4 separate regions of the Homo sapiens genome follow, and all the other regions are reported to be linked to region 4. The links are microRNA targets in miRTarBase. Many come from high-throughput screens and were not tested one by one. Region 4 holds a microRNA gene; each other region holds the end of a gene's coding sequence.
Evidence for each region. The annotated mature microRNA hsa-miR-539-5p reads GGAGAAAUUAUCCUUGGUGUGU and lies in region 4 at 1,319-1,340, opposite strand. An mRNA with a match to its seed (bases 2 to 7 or 8) in the 3' UTR can be bound and repressed. Matches are read on the target gene's strand: a 7mer-m8 pairs with bases 2 to 8, a 7mer-A1 pairs with bases 2 to 7 and ends in A, and an 8mer does both.

Region 1: miRTarBase lists MTNAP1 as a target of hsa-miR-539-5p. Seed matches in the 3' UTR shown: 7mer-A1 at 1,935-1,941.
Region 2: miRTarBase lists EDEM3 as a target of hsa-miR-539-5p. Seed matches in the 3' UTR shown: 7mer-A1 at 1,239-1,245 and 7mer-m8 at 1,471-1,477.
Region 3: miRTarBase lists STK11IP as a target of hsa-miR-539-5p. Seed matches in the 3' UTR shown: 7mer-A1 at 866-872.

The regions. Positions count from the first base shown.
Region 1 is chr17:73,246,793-73,249,901 of GRCh38, reverse strand. It overlaps MTNAP1 (mitochondrial nucleoid associated protein 1), which reads right to left. Exons shown (of 6, transcript NM_001351264.2): 6 at 943-2,661. The coding sequence ends at 2,561. It overlaps CPSF4L (cleavage and polyadenylation specific factor 4 like), which reads left to right. Exons shown (of 6, transcript NM_001129885.1): 6 at 1,366-1,453. The coding sequence ends at 1,408. Among named protein-coding and RNA genes, the nearest start is that of CPSF4L, 14 kb to the left of the region's middle.
Region 2 is chr1:184,691,656-184,694,655 of GRCh38, reverse strand. EDEM3 (ER degradation enhancing alpha-mannosidase like protein 3) reads left to right here. Exons shown (of 20, transcript NM_025191.4): 20 at 184-3,000. The coding sequence ends at 593. Among named protein-coding and RNA genes, the nearest start is that of EDEM3, 62 kb to the left of the region's middle.
Region 3 is chr2:219,615,551-219,618,659 of GRCh38, forward strand. It overlaps STK11IP (serine/threonine kinase 11 interacting protein), which reads left to right. Exons shown (of 25, transcript NM_052902.4): 25 at 494-901. The coding sequence ends at 643. LOC124908064 (a long non-coding RNA gene) reads right to left here. Exons shown (of 2, transcript XR_007088701.1): 2 at 2,813-3,109. Among named protein-coding and RNA genes, the nearest start is that of SLC4A3, 11 kb to the right of the region's middle.
Region 4 is chr14:101,045,560-101,048,668 of GRCh38, reverse strand. MIR539 (microRNA 539) reads right to left here and starts at 1,348; the gene lies at 1,271-1,348. All of the region lies in intron 1 of MIR381HG (MIR381 host gene), which reads right to left. It overlaps MIR381 (microRNA 381), which reads right to left and starts at 2,749; the gene lies at 2,675-2,749. It overlaps MIR487B (microRNA 487b), which reads right to left and starts at 2,214; the gene lies at 2,131-2,214. It also overlaps MIR889 and MIR544A. RefSeq lists enhancers at 1,903-2,403, 2,404-2,904.

The sequences.
Region 1 (3,109 bases), not on the chromosome of region 4:
TTCAGCTGCCGCTATCAACTGGCAATTAACTCAAATGGCTTTCTTTAGCATGACAGCTGCTTCCCTGTATGGCTTATTTAAATCTAAGAATATACTCTGTACCTTATGTGTGGAGTATTATGGGGCAGTAGATGGAATAAAATAGGCTTATCCTGGGGAGGTAAGGTAGTAACACAAAAATTTAACGGTATTACCATCTTTTAATGCCATCATGAAAGGCCAATACCAAGCAACTTAATCCACTGGGAAAGGGGGGGTAGTGGCTGTGCTGAGCCTTTTGGAATAATGGAGAAGAGCAATGGGATGTGTGAGGAAGAACTGGCCCCCCACCTTGGTAAAAAGACAGGTGCCTGGCCTGCCTGGAGCTGGAGTCCCCAGTCAGGGCAGTCTAAAAGAATGGAGCCCAGGAGTCGGGTTTTGGGGGGTTGAATGCCAGTTCAAACCAATGGGGGCTGCTATGTGATGAACAGCACAGAGCTACGTAGGCAAATCACTCTACCTCAAGCCCGTTTTCTTTTTGGAAAATGAGCAGGATAGCACCTACGCCACAGGACTGTTTGAAACTAAAAGGAGAAAACACATGTAAAAAACCTTGCATGGCACTCGGCACAAAGCAAGCCCCAGATGTTGGCTGGATCTGCCTGTGGATTGCAGTAGGGCCTCTCTTCCTCCGTTCAAGGTTGGAATTTATATATAGTATGATGGCACATACTACAGGCTTTAGAACAGCTGCTGTCAATGAGTTCCTACCATCACAGACGTTGCTGGAATTAACACATGTAAGACTTCTAATCTCACCAAATGTCTGCAAAGTAGGAATAATTATCCCTAAATTACAGTACAAAGGAGGCTCCAGTAAACTGGGTAACTTACCCAGGGACACACCCACCCATTTCACAGGTGAGGCTCTAGAAGAGGCATATAATCAGCTCAGGGGAGTACTTTTTATATTTTACAAATAATTTTATTATGAAGAGTGGCGGAAGTAGTATGTAGATGCCCCATAAAGTATAAAAGAGTCTGCTGATAATAAAATGATTTTATTTTTAACAGCTAAAATAAATTTTAATGTGCATTAGAAAAACTACACATTCCCAAGTAAACTCAGTCTTTCAGATATTATTCAGGATTAAACAAGGCCGCCCCGAGGTTAATCCACTTACACAGACCACGTGTGAGTTACAGCCGGGGTATTCAGGCATGTCCGTGAATATTCCCAACTTGTAGTAACAGAACCTTCAAATACGTCCTCTCAAGCATGGACAGTAGCCTGGGTGTCACCATGCCTCTTCTGCGGGATGGATGGGAAGGTGAATATGGATTACGTGTATGGATTCTCACGCTGCATTTGTATGCACCTTGCAGGAAGATTCGGGAATTCAAGCTGCTGCCTGGAAGCAAGATCTAAGCGTTGCTTCTTACCTAGCGGGGCACTCCAATGCCACAGACAGGGCAGAACACGACTTTTACCCCCTCCTTCTGCAGCATGATTTTAAGAGACAAAACTTATAAGGCTGTTTAAAATGGTAAATCATGTTAGAGACGTTCTTTTTCTTTCCTTGGCTCTGTGAAGAGATGAGTAGTTACCCCGCCTCACACCTGAAGCGTACTGGCTTCTGTGGGTAGCAGTCTTACTTGTCTACTATTCGTTCTGAGGAGTCTTGTCTTTCTGGATGAAGCTTTTAATCTGGTGATCACATACATGATTGGAACTGGCTGTGCAAATGAACTGATAGGAATTTTGCATACATGAGCGAAAAATGTATCCTCACGAGGCAACTTTACATCAGTATTGCACCCTGGAGCTGTGAAGTGTGCTTCCTCGTCATGCTGAGTTTGTTTAGATCTAAATCTCAGAAAATAATCAGCTATCAGTTTACCTCAACAACGCTCTTAAACTATTCTGAACATTAAGAAGAGATTCTTGAAGGACTTGAGAAAACATCTTCAATTATTTTCCCAACCCAGGTGGCAGCAATGAGCAGACAAGGAAGCCTTTCCTTCCATTACTCTGTAGACATTTACAAGTCATCCCAGAATGTGGAGATGTTTCCAATGGCTTCTTGAAAGTTATCCACACTACTGTATTGTGGATTCTCAGTATCTAATTCAAAGAAGTCAGTGGAGACTTTTTGTTGTTTCCTACTATATGTGAGTTAGAATTCTTGGTACTTACCAATGTCAAACAAAAAAGCTGTCTTCTTATTAATACAGGATCTCACCTTTGCCTTAAACTTGGCAATACAAGGCAGATATCCTTTTAGGACTCATGGATCATTAAATAGTTCTATTCTCATTAAATAACTTATTTTCAGGGATATAAAATATTTACTGTGACTAAGTTAAACCTTTTCATTATGTTTCAGCACCCTGATTATGACAAGTGATACTACTTTATTTATAGCAGTGATACAAATGCTCCTGATAACCTTGAGGGCTGAAAAGCTATCCCTTAATGCTACCACTACACTTAGGTGTTACAGGGCAATTCAGTGGGCAACACAGGGCACGAAGGCACTAGAGAGAAGTCACGAAGGCTTCTCCTACTTAAACGTGCTTCCTAATCCAAACATGTTTTAGAGCGGCAATCCCCAGTCGTCTTCGCCACACCAATGCATGGAGGTACTGTGCTCTTCCAGGGCAGGGGTCGGCACAATTTTTCTGTAAAGGCCAGATAGTAAATATTTTCAGCTTTTCAGGGCATATGGTTTCTGTCGCAACTACTCGACTTTGCTGTTGTTGTGTGAAACAGCCATGGATGCCACCTAACCAAATGAGCAGGGCTTGTTTTTGTACATTTTGACTACATACAAAAACAAGGCAGTGGGCTGGCTTTGGTCCGTGGGTCACAGTGGGGTCTGCTGCCCCTGCTCGAGGGAACTGGGGGACCGGGAAAGAGGGTATTACTGAAGGTCATTCTCATCTACCTTCTCACCTTGAGAGTTTCTGGTCTTGAGTAAGGACACATGGGGAGGTGTGGAGAGAATCCTTAAGCATCTCTCCTAAAGAGCATTCACAGAGAATGGGCACAAAGCTCTTTCGGCAGGGAAGATTGTTCTGGGTTCCAATGAAGTTCTTAGTAATATTAAACTAAAATAACTGAATGTAG
Region 2 (3,000 bases), not on the chromosome of region 4:
CTATAGGAAAATGTGACTGCATAAAGACAGTCTTCATTTCAGTGCTGATGCTCACCTTTCTGCATTAACATGAGTCTCTTTCACGTTTTATTTCATCTTGTTGCAAAAACCAATATGCTTTGGAAAGTGTAATAGTACATTTTTTTAGAGAAGTAGCATGAGGTTTGTTTCTTTCTCATACAGATCCTGAAATGGAAAATGAAGAACAACCATCCTCTGAAAATGATTCTCAGAATCAGAGTGGTGAACAGATTTCATCAAGTTCTCAGGAGGTTGATTTGGTTGATCAAGAGTCTTCTGAGGAAAATTCTCTAAATTCTCACCCAGAATCATTATCTCTAGCAGATATGGACAATGCTGCAAGCATTTCCCCTTCTGAACAGACTTCTAATCCCACAGAAAACCATGAGACTACAAATCTTAATGGTGAATGTACAGATTTAGATAACCAGCTTCAAGAACAATCAGAAACTGAGGAAGATTCCAATCCTAATGTTAGCTGGGGTAAAAAGGTCCAGCCTATAGACTCCATATTAGCAGACTGGAATGAAGATATAGAAGCATTTGAAATGATGGAGAAGGATGAGCTATGACTTGCTAAACAATCTGTTGGTAGGTATTTAAAAAGAAAAGGTAAACTGTGTGTGGTTAATAGACATCCTAATACTAAGCAGGCTTTCTAATGGGAGGCTTTAAGTATGGTGATGAACAACCACGTTCTGACTGGCGTAGTTATCGTAGGAATCTGGAGCATGCTGTGTTAGAATTGACCTTGTTTAAAACTGTCCCATCAAAAATGGAAATCCACAGTTCCCCCTTCAAATGCAGCACTGCACCACCCTGCAACACCTCAGGCCAGGGAAAGATTACTGAGCATTCCTGCGAACCAGATTTCTGTTGTCTCTGGATAGACAAGAAACAAAATTCATTTAGTAGTGGAGTGGGGAATAGGAGTTTGGATAGCCTTCTAATTAAAGGAAGCTCGCCTTTCTTGGTTTTGGGGGTTAGAGGCTCTTTTGGGAAGATGCATCCGAGTATTGTGGCATTCTGATTATGCTGCCTTCACAAAACACTCTAAGTGACCTAAGTGGTTATGAAGCAAATGCATTTATGGTGAAAACAGTCTTTGCTCATTGCTTTCTCTTGTTTCATTTAGTGACAAATGATCAAGATGACTTGATTTTTTTTCCTTCTTAACAATGTCTTTTTTATTTAAACCAAAGGTGAAGCCAGTGTACTTTCTCAGTGAGTTCTCTGCATAAAGACTAATCAGTGGGACCAGGTAAAAAGGTCATATAATACATTGTGGAGATTGCTTACTTAATACTTCTGAAAAATGGAGTAAGGGAGAAACTGTAATGTTGCAATATGAACCTCCCATTGGGCCTTCCATAGGGAAAGCTGTGACTACTCTGAAATGGAACCTAGCATTATATCCTTGTAGGGTAGATTATAAATCATTTCCAGTTCATTTCTCTTAGAGGTGATTACCTCTAGCCATCAGCCTTACTCCATCCCATGTTTGGTATGCAATTTGAGCCACAAGGCTCGTATCGCCAACAGCTATATACATTTTGTTCCATTTTTCTGTCTTACAGAGCCATGATAGAACTGTGGTTAGTGAGTTAAAATTCCTGGAGTAACTACTGTTTTTCTCCTTTGAAACTTAGGTTTCTAAAGTTGCACCTAAGGAATCTGTCACATTTTCTGTTGAATCATGGTTTTTGTTTTTGTTTTTAACAGATATTCCTTCTGATACGGACTTGAAAATTAGTGTATGGTGACCTGTGTTTAAAAAAAAAAGTACAATACAACTACATATAGCTATATAGCTTAATGAGACTTCCACCCCCCCCCTTTTTTTTTTTGGTTTGTTGTTGTTGTAGTAGTCTGGTGCTGGCCACATTTAAGTCTTAAAAATTTTTAAATTTTGTTGTTGATGTTTGTAGACAGCCCTGTTGTTGAAATCATGGCTTTATTCATTTTATTTATTTTTTAAACTTGCCTGAATTTGTTCTAAAGGAATATTTAAGAGACATAATTTTCTTCTCTTTACCATAACATTACACAAAACTTTTTCCTAAAACACGGTTGTGAGGTACTGATGAGGTGTAAGTGGAGCTGTTAAAAACAGCAGTGCTGTATTGCAGTTATGTATATTCGTGTACAGTATGTTTAGATCCCAGGTAAACATATTCTTTTCTGAGAGGATAAATACCTGCATTCAGATATTCCAGGTAAATATAATTGAGTCAGGGAGTAGTAAATCTGATGGAGAATTCACTTTGGGGAGGGGAAAAAGAATAGTATGCAAGACCCTTATTGGCTTTTAATTATACCTGAAACCAAAATGGATATTTTTAGTCTCTCTGCATGTGAGATTTGGTGTAACAAGATAGAACTATAATATATACAGTATATGGAAGGATAGATATAGTGCTTTGTTCATTTTAATTGCAAAGCTGCCAAAATAGTTGAAGCTTAATTACTTGACTTGCCTTGATTTATAGGACTGGGGCTTGGAGAAAATGAGCAGATGTTCCTCTAAGACATCGATTACAGAAGCCTTATATACATGGATTTGATTTTGTATTTGTAGCTGAAAGTCACTGTTGTCTAAAACTAACTTTTCTAAGTTATCAAAACAACCTAATTTCTTTTCCAACAAGGAGAACTTAATGGCATGAAGGATTGTGTGACACATTGGAAAAGCCAGCTTACTGCCACTCTCTTCCTTTGGCCATTAGAGGGAGGTGTTGCCTTTCATTGACGCTTAGAAGCAAATTGTTCACTTGTTAAGAAAAGTAAATCCTTAAAAAAAGAAAAGGAAAAAATTTAACCAATTTTTCTTAATACCCAGAAGGAATTATACTCAATATTTCCCTAGTTAAGAAAAGAGGAGATAATGTTCGTCTAAAAAACTCCAACGTTGTAATTACAACTCTACATTCATTTACTTACTTGACATACTGCCACAAAGTAGTTTTTGAGTTCATTAAA
Region 3 (3,109 bases), not on the chromosome of region 4:
CACCTGGACTGGGAGCCCAGCCATTTAGCTGGGCCACGAGGCTTTCAGTGAGGTTTCCGGCAGCTTTGAGTTGGCAGGATTGGGCCGGTTGTATGCCAGCCGTTTGGCCTTTGTGACCACCACCTGAGGAGATACGGTTACTGGTCCTATTTACAGGTGAGGAAGCTGAGGCTTGGGGATGTTAACCAGTTTGCCCAGTCCAAAGTGGTGGAGCCGGGAATTGAATCCACAGTTCCCTGAAATTGAGCCCGCATCTTCTGTACAACAGGGAAGATGAAAAAGACAGGTCCTCTGGAGGCTTTCAGTAAACGTCGGCTGGATTCTGTTTACAAAGCTCAGAGTCAGGATCTTTTATGGGGAGTGACATGGGCCTGGGGAAGGGGAGAGGCACTGAGCCAAGGTGGAGACAGTGAGGCCTTCGCAGAGACCTCCCTTGTACCCACCCTGGTGTGGTCCCCATGAGCCTCGCCTTGCTAACTGCTCGGTCTGCCAGGTGTCCCGGCTGGAGAGCTTTTGGGCACTCCGTGTGGTGTGTCAGGAGCAGCTGACAGCCCTGCTTGCCTGGATCCGGGAACCATGGGAGGAGCTGTTTTCCATCGGACTCCGGACAGTGATCCAAGAGGCGCTGGCCCTTGACCGATGAGGGTCCCACGCTGACCTTGGCCCTGACCTCAGGAGCCACGCTGTAGACATTCCCTCTCCTGGTCTCTGGGTCTGGCTTCCAGGCTCTGGCTGTGGATGTCTTCAGCCTCTGGGTGCTGGCCAGTGAGGTCCCAAATGACCCAGGGCTTAAGGGAGAGGCGAGAGAATGATCTGGCCTCAGGGGACAGGCCACCTGGTCAGGAGGAATATTTTTCCTGCACTTTTTCTCAGGTATCAATAAAGTTGTTTCCAACTCATAGGTCATGTGTGGTACTTAGAGTCACTCATAAGGCCTGCAGTTCCCCTAACCTCTTCTGACAGAAGCTATCCCACCCATCACCTTTCCTGAATGGGCAGCTCCAAGCAGCCTTGTTTGTGCCATGAGACCCCATCTCCAACCCAACTGTGGTCCCAGCATGGGAGATCAAGTAGAGCTCCTGACCCACAGGCACACAGCCCCAAGCTGGCAGTGACTTGTCATGTGGCCCGGCATGGAATTGCTGCCAAACAAGTAGCTGGGCCAGATACGGTCCTGCTCTCTTGAACTTTACATGGAAAGTAGTGAGGACTTCAGGCCATCGCAGAGGGTGTCTGGGGAGAGGGTGTGTGGAGTTGAGTGGTGACCTCTGGTGCTTCCTGCCATTGCCTTCTCAGCACCGCCTCACTCAGCCTGGAGGCCTGGATGGTCAGCCCCACTCCCTCACCTCTTGTCTCCAAGTCTGGCCCCAGTGATTGGTTCAGGAATCCTCATGTGAATTCGTTTGGCTTATGAAGCCCCAGCGCAGGCATTTGACTAGAGCAACCAAGAAGGAGGCAAGTTTCCTCTCAGGGTTGCTGTGAGGATAAGCCTGGAGCTGCTGGCTGTGGGGAGGCGCTTTCCTAAAGTGGAACCATGAGAGAGAGGAAGATGGCCCAGATGGAGAGAGCAGGGCCAGACTCTGGGGATATCTTTGAAGCCCCTGGGTCTAGTTGTGCCCGAAGACAGAAACCCCTGTGACTTTAGGTAACATGATCTAAAAAAGAAGCCCTCCCCTCCCTGTTTCTATGGCTTAAGCTAATTCGAAGCAAGTATGAGCCACCAAGAGTCCCAACTAAACAAACCCCGACTCCAACTTGAGCTGGGCTGAGATCTGTTTCTTGTACCCAAGAATGAACACAATGGAGATCATTACAGCCACACAGTTGTGCAGAGAGGCTCTGGTTCTTGGTTCCGATTCTGAAGTGAGGCAGAATGATTAATCCAGCTCACTTTTTGTGTCAGGTCTATGGCCTTGACCACTTTGTGACCCGACTGCTTGGTGGGAACAGCAGTACTGGGGCTGTGTCACTGGGGCCTTCTACCTGGAAAGGATGTGGGAAGGGTTGCCTGGCCTAACCAGCCCACTACATCTCTAAATCCATGGGGCGAACTTTTTAAAAATGAAAAAGGGTCATTGAAAATCCTGTACTTTTACATTTATTTAAAATTATTTAAAATGTATTTAAAAGAATGTATACAGGAAAAAAATGTATACTGTACTTAAGAATGTAGAGTGAGTTGCTCTCATATGCCTGACCCCCTAACTCTAGATTCAAGCATTCTTACCCAATTTTTGTGTATCTGCTTAAAATCTCAGTGCATGTACACAATTTTCCCCAGAAAAGGGTAATTAAGCCATTCACTTCCATTTAGAAAAAAGATTGGCCGGGTGCACTGGCTCACGCCTGTAATCCCAACACTTTGGGAGGCTGAGGCGGGCGGATCACGAGGTCAGGAGATGGAGACCTTCCTGGCTAACATAGTGAAACCCTGTCTTTACTAAAAATACAAAAAATTAGTGGTGGAGGTGGGCGCCTGTAGTCCCAGCTACTCTGGAGGCTAAGGCAGGAGAATGATGTGAACCCGGGAGGCGGAGCTTGCAGTGAGCCAAGATGGTGCCACTGCACTCCAGCCTGGGCGACAGAGCAAGACTCCGTCTCAAAGAAAGAAAAAAGATGATTTCTAAGATTAGTTTCTCCCTGGCAGGTCTGGCCTGCTTTGGCGGGAGAGTAGGGGGGGAATGGTAGGAGTCATGGAACCGGCTAGTTGGGAAATGCTGGCTGGGGTAGAGGCCTCTTGGAAACAGCTGCAGAGGCTGAGGGCCCAGAAAGATCTGTGCAGAGGCCCAGAAAATAAATTCACCTACTTCTGTTTTGCTCAGAACTGCCCTCAATTTTTAATTGAAGCAAATTAAAACTTCCCAAAAATATTAGTCCACTTTCTTGGCAAGGTACACAGCCCCTTCTCAGTCAGTGATTTTGGACCATCTGCAAACAGGAGCTGGTACTGGTCCTGAGGAAGGCCTTTCCCTGGCCAGAGGCTGCCCTTCACACCAGGCCTGTTTGCAGGCACTTCCCCAGAAGCCGGGTCAAATCAGGCCATGGTGCAGATGGGGCAGAATAATCTCCAGTCATTCAAGGTGATTGGTAGAGAAGTGCGAGGCAGGGA
Region 4 (3,109 bases):
GTGATGAAAATCTTAGGAGCATTTTTAAAGTTTGAGAAACACTACTCTAGCCAACTATTCATATGCACACGCACACAAACACACACACACACACACACACACCCCAGAGGTGCTGTCGACCACAACGTCTTATTCCATGAGAGTCTGTCTAAGATGGGGTGGTTCCCAAGGAAGGCACGAAGCCATGCCACGTCCACCAAGAATAATCCAAATACCCAACAGGCAGCTGCTTAGGAGCTGCCAAAAAGTAGTAATAGTAACAGGAAATGTACGGAGTTTTTACTAATGTTTGCATTCCCTACAGGAAGTGTTTCATACTCAGAATGAAGGCTACAGATAGGAGAGGCTGGACCCAGGTTCCCCGGTCCACCATCTACCTAGAGAGAGGCTTGACCCCGGCATCTCTCCAAGGAATTCCTCGTGGCTAAGATTTAATAACAAGAAGAGAAAGAGAGATGAAATAATTGTGAACATCTTCCAATAAAAAGATATGGCACCAAGCCCCTAAATGGCATCTCCACCCCAAAGCTAGCATTTGTCCAAGGAAATCACACTGGTGGCTTGCATTCTGAGATCACTGGATTCATCATTATAAATCATCAACACAGTCACACTCCATGGTGGGGCAGGCACCAATGTCCCCTCACTGAAGTCAGCACTGTGCTTTCAAAAACTTCTGAAGCAAATTTGGATACTAAAACAATGGTTGTCCGATATTAATCATCATAAATATAGAGACCATACTACGGACAGCCATTCTTTAAGCACCAAAGAACTGTGCCATCAAGAAGAGCTGGGCATCTTCTCCAAAGTTGGTGTCTCTTCCAGAAAGTTCTTCTCAGGTAGTCCAAACAATGAGGATTAGCAGGTCAGCTTCACACATTGAGAGTCAAGCCCATGCCTGGGGGTCAGTCACACTCTTGGGCAGGGGAAGGGGGTCTGGCCCCAATGATCGGTCCCTAAGGTTTGCTTCATGTCCAAGAAGTGCCTCCAAGAAGCAGGATTTGATAAGTAGCTTGAATGCTGCGTCACCCACAACACACACCCATGGCCAATGCAAATCCCTGATAGCACCAAGGAGTCCCGTGGCCCCCTGCCAAGCGTGGCCCCGCCTCCAGGGTTCTGAGGTTAGGGCACAAGTGTCCCCACCACAAACCAACTGCATGCGCCCTCATCCCCACCCAGGCGTGAGCCCCTGGGAAGGGCTGATGCGTGCATCCCTTTACAGAACTTGTCATGGCGTCCAGGAAGTCTGCCGAGGCAAGATTTGATACTCAAAAAGAAATTGTCCTTGTATGATTCATCATAAATAAAGCGAACACACCAAGGATAATTTCTCCTCAAGTATGAAACAGCAGCACGGACCACCACCTCCAGGTCTTTGGCTCAAGGTTAGATGGTGACTGCTTCGTGGCAAACCCAGTCACACACTCGCTCATGCACACACACCACGCACACACAGGCATGCACAATGCATGCACCAAGTTTGACCTCTCTTTAAGCACCAGGGAAGCAAGATGCCATAGAATCCTCACTCAGCTTGGCATCCTCGCTCAAGACTCCTTCAAAGCGTAGATAGTGGCCGAGGTCAAGAACCCAGGGACTGTCTCTCTTAAGTGGAGCAAATGTTCTCGGCACCCCTGCTGACCCCCACTGCATGTGGCATTCTGTATCAAAAGCCACTGTGTGAATGGCTTAGCTGCCAAGCATCAAGAGCATCACTAGCCCCCATTGTAAACACCGTGTATGCTCTGGGCTTCCTAGTCCATTCCATACCCGATGAAGGACTTGACTTCCATGTTTTGACACTGTTCCAAAAACCCATGGAGAGATTTTAGTCATAAAACCACCACCACCACCACCACCACCACCACCAATGATAGTTTCACAGCACACAAGGGTCCTGGCTACCACCTACGAAGTGCCGACCACGGGGCTCTGCTCTGAGCCGTGTACAAGTCTTAACTCGTTCAGCCCCAGCAGCCCCAAGAAATGGACGCCAATGTGATTCCCCTTTGACATGTGAGACAATGGGCACAGCACGATGAGATCCTTGCCCAAGGTTGGACGGTTAGTAAATGTCAGAGGTGGGATCCAAACACAGGAAATCGAGCTCCAGAGTCTGCGCTCTTGATACTGAAAAAGTGGATGACCCTGTACGATTCGACATGAGCAAAACGAACAGGACAGGGATAACCACTCTCCAAGTACCAAAGGTTAGCACGGAAAAGAAAGCCACTGCCTTGGGTGGACTTGGTACGTCTTCAAGGCGCGGTCCTGGGGATGAATTAGATGCTGAGGGTTAGTGGACCGGGTCACATACCCCAAGCAGAACATGCACACTCACGGACCGAGTAACAGCAGGGACCACAAAGCCACTACCCCACACGAGCGCCACCCCAGCCATCGGCCCGGGCTGATGACTTCCCGCTCAGGAAGCAGGGACCCAGACCACACACATCGTGCATGCTTTTGGCCCCGCCCACACTGCACCAGGAGAGGGGATGTCCCAGAGGCCACTGCCTTCCCTAAAGTCATCCAGGTGCCCGTGAAGTCCTCTCTGTGAAGTGGGGACCCGTGAACGATTTGCCACACACAAAACGGATACACACGGTCATGCACACACATACCGCATCCCTTGCTGAGTGTGGACTGGGTCCAAGACAAGGTTTGATACTCACAGAGAGCTTGCCCTTGTATATTCCATGTCAATAAACCGAATATACAAAGGGCAACCTCGCTTTAAGTACCAAACAATAGCACTGGGCAGGTTCCTCACTATCATTCACGGGGCCGGCCTCCTCTCCCGGGGTTCATCCTGGCGGGGGAGGGGGTGGGAGATGCGGGATCAGCAGACCAGGTGGCAAACACCACCTGCCAGCTGTGTGCCCATAGGTCAGCTCTCCATCCCAAAGGGGCCAGGAAGGGGCAGACGCCAGTGCCCCTTCACCAGAATCAGCCTCTTTTCCAGGCATCACTCCAGATTAGAACTTGTTCCTGAAAAGGAGATCCACCCCACGGGCCTTCCTGGGCACACGCAGAGCTCAGCTTCTCACTTTCTATAGGAATTCCCTGGGGTGGGACCACCATCTCCTTCCCAGTGTGGGCA